Homo sapiens: one gene and its partner. The protein of the gene in region 1 interacts with the protein of each later gene in a pairwise test. Each region holds a gene or a part of one and is shown on either strand. Other genes may lie near its edges.

Region 1 (3,500 bases):
GTTGCAATTTTTTTTTTTTTTTGAGACAGAGTCTCGCTCTGTTGCCCAGGCTGTAGTGCAGTGGCTCGATCTTGGCTCACTACAACCTCTGCCTCCCGGGTTCAAGTGATTCTCCTGCCCCAGCCTCCCAAGCAGCTGGGATTACAGGTGCCCACCACCACACCTGGCTAATTTTTTTAATATTTTTAATAGAGGCAGGGTTTCGCCATGTTGCCCAGGCTGAGCTTGAACTCCTGACCTCAAATGATCTGCCCACCTCAGCCTCCCAAAGTGCTATGATTACAGGCATGAACCACCGCACCTGGCCTTAATATTTCAAATTTACACAACTATATTTTAAAACTAATCTAGGAATATCTGTGAGAAAGATACAAACTATAGGCCAGGCATAGTGACTCACACCTGTAATCCCAGCACTTTGGGAGGCTGAGGCAGGCAGATTGCTTGAACCCAGGAGTTTGAGACCAGCCTGGGCAACATGACGAAATCCTGTCTCTAGAAAAAATAGAAAATTAGCTGGGTGTGGTGGCACGTGGCTGTAGTCCCAGCTACTTAGGAAGGTGAGGTGGGAGGTTCACCTGAGCCTGGGAGGTGGAGGCTGCAGTGAGCTGTGATCGCATCACTGCATTCGAGCCTGGGTGATGGAGACCTTGTCTCAAAAAAAAAAAAAGAAAAGAAAAGATACAAACTATAGTTGGCCTTGGGGGTGATGAATAATCAGAAATAATAAAAAGAGTTACGGGTTAAGCCCAAAATCATTTGTGACAGGAAACCACGGGGGGACTCTGGGACCATAGAGCTCCCTAGGATTGGTTTGGGTTATGACTAGTGGTGAGGTAGATGACCAGGTAGCATATGTAATTAGTGATACATGTACTTCTCTCTTTGCCTTTTTATTTTCTTTAATTGTGTTAACTAAATACTCAAGTTAGTATCACTGAGTCTGGTTAGAAGTAGTGAACAATTGGGGCCCTGTTACCATATTTGGTGCTAAAACTATATTATGACTTCATTTATATGCAGCAAAGACCTAGTATTAAGGAAGTTTCCCACAAAACAAATCAAAAATGGGAGACACTTAAATTGCTTAATGAGTTTTATAGCAGCAGAAGAATCCATATTCAACAATGGAGCTCTAAGATTAAAGTCATTTAAATTCTAGCTATAAGAGGAATTTAATACAGGAGGTACCTCCACAGTCTCAAAGCTATCAGCATTCTTTGTCAGTATACATCAAATTATGTGGAGATATTGAAGAAGAAAGGCTTCTGAGATTAGTCTGAATGTTGATGTTCTAACGAGTTATAGATCTATCCATTTTTATTCCATCTCAATATGCTTCATGGAGAAATGTGTTGTGTTTCTGTTGTAGGATACATTTATATTAAGTATAAATACACAGTGCACAGTTTTGATTGTGTTTCTTACATTTCAAGTTTTACCAATAATCTTAAATCTTAAAAAGATTAAGATAATCTTTAAAAATCTAAAATCTTAAGAATATAAAGAGTATTACACTTAAAGACTGAAAAATAATGTAGAGATGGCAACCCCTAAACCCATTTAATATTCTTGGTCAAATCAAGAATATTAAATTGAGAAGAGTACTCTGAAATGTAAGGATGTTGGATTTGGAAGCATTTTCTACCATGTTTATAGGTGATACTATTCTATTATACAATAAATCTAACACACATGTACCTGACCAATAATAGTTTAATAGAATATGAAAATAGAGGCCGGGCACGGTGCCTCACGCCTGTAATCCCAGCACTTTGGGAGGCCGAGGTGGGCGGATCACCTGAGGTCAGGAGTTCGAGACCAGCCTGACCAATATGGTGAAACCCCACCTCTACTAAAAATACAAAAAAAAAAAAAAAAAGGCATCGTGGTGTGTGCCTATAGTCCCAGCTACTCAGGAGGCTGAGAGAATTGCTTGAACCCAGGAGGCGGAGGTTGCAGTGAGCCGAGATCATGCCACTGCCCCCCAGCCTGGGCGACAGAGCGAGACTTGGTTTAAAAAAAAAAAAAAAGGATATGAAAATAGAGCAGGAAGGGTTGCCTGTCAAGAGTAAGGAACAAAAGCAGTTAGGAATCAAGGATGGATGCTGTTTTTAATCTCAAAAGGTTCAACTTGATGTTACATCCTTGTGAGTCTAGGATAGTAAACCCAAATCACCTGTAGTTAACCTTGTGAATTAACTTTTTTGTGCCTCTGCTCTCTGATAACAGACACCTCACATAAGCAGCATACAGCAGTTTGCAGCATTCTCCTGCCCTTGGCCAAAATTGTCCTCACCCAGTTATTACTGAGCACATTAGAAACTGCCTTCCAGCCCATCAGTGGCTGTATTTTAGAGACATTGTAGCCACTGAAGTATAAATTATCTGGCATTGTCTAATTGCCTACTGTGAGGTAATATTCTTTTTAATGTATTTGTTACCATCCTTATTTATTGGAGTTGGCTATGGTGTTAGATTTGGGTAATTTACTAAACTTTTCCCTGTTTATGACCTGTGCTTGTCCCTGACAAGGAAAGCTGATGTATTGCTACCTGCTGTGTTACAAAGGGTTTGATTACAGTTTCTAAATGGAAGAGATTGCCCCCAGCTGACTCCGTTCTGGAGCAATTCCAGGCTTTAGACTGGTACTGATACCACATCTAATAGGATGTGGCTAAGAAGCAATTGGACTTGGACGTTAATAGGGAGCTGCAAATCAGCAAAAGTGTGTTCCACAGGCATATAGTGTGGTGGAGTGAAATGCAGAGGTTCCTTTTTGAAAGTTTAGCTTATATCCTTTTGCTTTGAAGTTCATTACCAAGGAAAATATGCAAATATCACAACTTAACTATTTTATCCTAATGGTGCCTGTGATTAAATGCAAGTGAGAGGTGGCACTTTCAGGAGCTTCCATATACATCTTGGCCTGATCCTTATAGCCTATAATTCCCACTGCCTTGTGTGTAATCCTAAAGTTCAGGATCAAACCATCTGGGAGGTAAACTCTAATTGTCTATGCTTTCCTCTTTCTAAAATAAAATATGAGTTATAATTGGACTTTTTAAGCAAGAATATGAATAGGATAATGACTGCTGACATTCAAACCCCTTTTTTTTTTGAGACTGAGTTTGAATTTACAGAATGTAACACTGTCTCTGAAGAATACAAAAAGTATACATCCCAATAATTATACTTTCATTTTTTTCTTTTTCTCTTTTTTTTTTTTTTTTGATCACTTTGAAGATGATATTGGAAGGATGCCCTCTTGGTTATATATTCAAGCTCTTTGGATACAGTATCTATAGTTGTTTTTTTTTTTAATTGGTTATTGTGACTTCTGAAATAAGGTTTCCTTTGTGTGAAACTCAGCATGAGGCCAGAATGTGTTAGTCCTGTCTGCTTGCCATGTAATACCTGGCCAACACAACAACCCATGATTGATGGGTGAATGCTTGAGGCCTAGTAGTGCTAACGTGAAGTACTGCCTGAAAAAGGAC
Region 2 (3,500 bases), on another chromosome or scaffold:
ATTAAATCAAGCTAAAATTATTTTTTAAAGGGAAAAAGGTCTAAACCAAAGTGATCTTACTCACCAGTTGTGGGGATCAACTGTCCATGCAATAATGACTGTCCAAGCAAAGATGGGGTTCCAAGAACAGGCACCTGGTAACCCTTTAGAAACAACCACAAATAAACAGAAATAGTTAAAAAAAAAAAAAAAAAAGAGGTAAGAACAAAGCCAGAAAAACAAAACCCTGCTGTAAAAAAAATCCCAAATTAAAGCACCAGTAAAATTTACCTTCTCTTCCATAAGAGCGGTAATTGCAATTGAGGAGGTTCCCTTTGAGTGCTCTGATGCAAGAGCTGCAGCTGGCAATATTTTATTATCAGAATCCCTTTAAAAAACATAAATTATAATACATTAAAAATTATCAGAAATGGACAATTAAGAGTAAAAAAGTTTGCTGCTGTTTACCCATCACCTGCAGTTAAGATGAGTTAAGTCAAAGATGATGAATACTTCTGAGGAAAGTGAGAGAAGGCTGAAACTTTGAAGAGTTCTCTATATGTAGTAAGTGGAAAAGTAAAATGAAGGACCTCCTTAAGAAGATACTACAGTTATGACAGAAATCAGTTGCAAGAATAGTAAAACTTAAAATCAAAGTCTGGCCTATGAAGACAAAAATCCCCCTAGGATTAAGAGTTAAGTTTTAGCTCTAGTTCTACCACTAAACTGAAAGGATAATCTTGGGTCAGCCATAGAACTCTCTGGGCCTATTTCCACTATCAACCAAATAAATTCCACCAGATCAGTGGAATTTCTTAAATGTAAATGTAAAGGTCTCATCCTAAAGATTTTGCTTCAGTGTGTCTGAAATGGGCCTCTTACACCTTTTTTTTTTTTTTTTAAAGAATTTATGAGACATTAAACTACATGGACAAAAGTCTCATTTCTGAAGTGGTAGGCTGTGAGTTTTCACTATTCTCCTACATAATAATTATGCTCCAAAACAATCACTATTCCTGACTTCTCTACTTACCTGTGTTTTTACCCCCTCTTCTCTACCTATCTAAACTGTTCTTAGTTCTACTCAAAACTACTCCTATCCAAAACTATCATTATGATCACAAGTGAATTCTCCCACCTCTGTTAAGTTCAGAGCTGTTATGGTATATGGAACATTCAACGTTTAATAGGGGCTGGTTGGCAACCTGTGTAGTATTTGACCTCAGGATGCTTAATCCTCATTTGCCAAATCAATCACGTTTGTTTTCCTCTTCCCCCAATAAGACTAAGTCACTTCTTACAAGTCATCCCACATTACTGAGCACAGTGGTCCACTAAGAAAGCTGTTAAAAGTGATAACCAACAACAAAACACTACATCATTGACCTCATTTGGTTTCTAACAGTGAAAAACACACAGGCTTACCGAAAAGGTCCATCTGATTTTTCTGAATGAACTGATATGGATACTGTTGCAGTTATATCAGGTACAGGAGCTGGAGCAGAAGACGGATTTCCAGACACAGGAGGGGCCAAGGAAGACTGATTAGAAGTTAATGAAGATATAGACGGAGCTGGGTGAGTTGATGAAGATGTCACTGGAATCATAAGAGGATCTTGTTGTCTTGATATCGGAGATCTCATCAGAGGTTGTAGGTTCCTCTGAATCAGTGGTCTCGGAGGTGGTATTGGGGGTGGTGGAGGAGGTAACTGTTTTCGTAGTCTTTTTGTATAGCCAGTTTCATTTTTGAAGTTATTTACAGCCTACAGATACCAAGCATAATAATGCAGAAAAATGTTATGCAGTATTCACTGAAGTACAGTTAAATCAGTTAAAAAGAATTTTTTCATAAAATGGATACAGACAGTTACCTGTCGTAAAAATTTATTGGCAATTAAAGCATCAGGAGAAACATCATTTTGATGACACGTCGGACATGTGTGCTCATCTGATTCCAGGAGTGCTGTTCTTATACCTATGTATAAGATTTCAAATATTAATAAAAGCATAGTAGGAACTCAAAGTGTTTACGAAATGAATTAAAAGGATGGTCCACATTTGTTCAGTTACATTACTGTTTTCCAAGCATGTCGTGCTAATCATTTCTTAGATTAAGAAACTTAAGTAAAATCTCTCATCTTACAGTACTCCTCTGCTCTTTTCTATATGACCTATGCTACGCTAAAAAGAAGTCACAGCTGGGTGTGCTGGCATGTGCCTGTAATCCCCACTCCTGGGGAGGCTGGGACAGGAGAATCACTTGAGCCTAGAAGTTCAAGGCTAGCCTGGGGCAAAATAGCAAGGATCCCCCACCCCATCTTTTTTTTTTTTTAAACAAATGTCTGAATTGAGAGCAAAAGCACTCTTTCTCAAAGACTATTCTTTGTTTAGCTAGTAACTGGAATATTGTAGAAAACAAAAGAGAAATATAAGATAGTCTAGAAAGACAAAAATTTTACATGGCTAACTTGGGGTTTTTATTCAGGCAAGGAAATGAGAGACCTACAGCACAGTACGTGGGAGCAACACTAAATTACAGATACGAAGATTAAGCTTCAATGTAGTAAAACTCCAGTAATACCAAGTGGTATGTTAAATCTAAGATATAATCTGAAACAAGTCTTTAGCAACCTCTTCTTGACCTTGGTCTTCACTGAAGAGGTCAAAAAATAAAGATTTACAGGTATCCAAAGGGGATGGGTTCCAGAACCCTCTGAAGATAACGTCTGTAGATGCTCAAGTCACTCAACTGCCCCAAAGGCATAGTATTTGCATATAATACTATGTACATCCTCCAGTATACTTTAAATAATCTCTAGATTGCTTGTAATACCTGCTGCAATATAAATGCTATGTAAATAGTTGTTATACTCTTATTTTAAAATCTGTATTAGTCTTTACTATTATTTTTTACTGTTTTCTTGCCCCCAAATATTTATGATCTGTGGTTTTGAATCTGCAGATGCAGAACCATGTGTATGAGGACTGTATATTTCAAAACTACCTTTAAAAATGAAAAAGGCCAGAGCAGGCTTGAGCAAATTTTCAGGTAACACTGATTTCTTCTGTGTAAGAAGGCACAAACTTAGGATAAGTGGCAGGAAACAACTAAGTGCTAATATAAGTGATTTAAAAAGTCACAACTGCATGGTAAATGCTGGGTAATAAATATGTCTACAGATGTCGGGCGCGGTGGCTCACGCCTGTAATCCCAGCACTTGGGGAGGCCGAGGTGGGCGGATCACGAGGTCAGGAGATCGAGACCATCCTGGCTAACACAGTGAAACCCCGTCTCTACTAAAAATACAAAACATTAGCCGGGTGTGGTGGCGGGCACCTGCAGTCCCAGCTACTTGGGAGGCTGAGGCAGAATTGTGTGAAGCCAGAAGGCAGAGGATGCAGTGAGCCGAGATTACACCACTGCACTCCAGCCTGGGAGACAGTGAGACTCTGTCTCAAAAAAAAAAAAAAAAAACAAAAACTGTCTACAGGAATCAGGTGTTAATACACTTAGAAATATT

What was found.
Region 2: the proteins of ANAPC16 (region 1) and RBBP6 interact in a two-hybrid assay, tested with the Homo sapiens proteins (one study listed by BioGRID).

The regions. Positions count from the first base shown.
Region 1 is NC_000010.11:72,226,012-72,229,511, forward strand, and holds part of ANAPC16 (anaphase-promoting complex subunit 16), read left to right. Parts: intron 1-3,500. UniProt on the Homo sapiens protein: Component of the anaphase promoting complex/cyclosome (APC/C), a cell cycle-regulated E3 ubiquitin ligase that controls progression through mitosis and the G1 phase of the cell cycle.
Region 2 is NC_000016.10:24,560,066-24,563,565, reverse strand, and holds part of RBBP6 (E3 ubiquitin-protein ligase RBBP6), read right to left. Parts: intron 1,955-3,500; coding exon 1,851-1,954; intron 1,743-1,850; coding exon 1,405-1,742; intron 368-1,404; coding exon 271-367; intron 144-270; coding exon 65-143; intron 1-64. UniProt on the Homo sapiens protein: E3 ubiquitin-protein ligase which promotes ubiquitination of YBX1, leading to its degradation by the proteasome.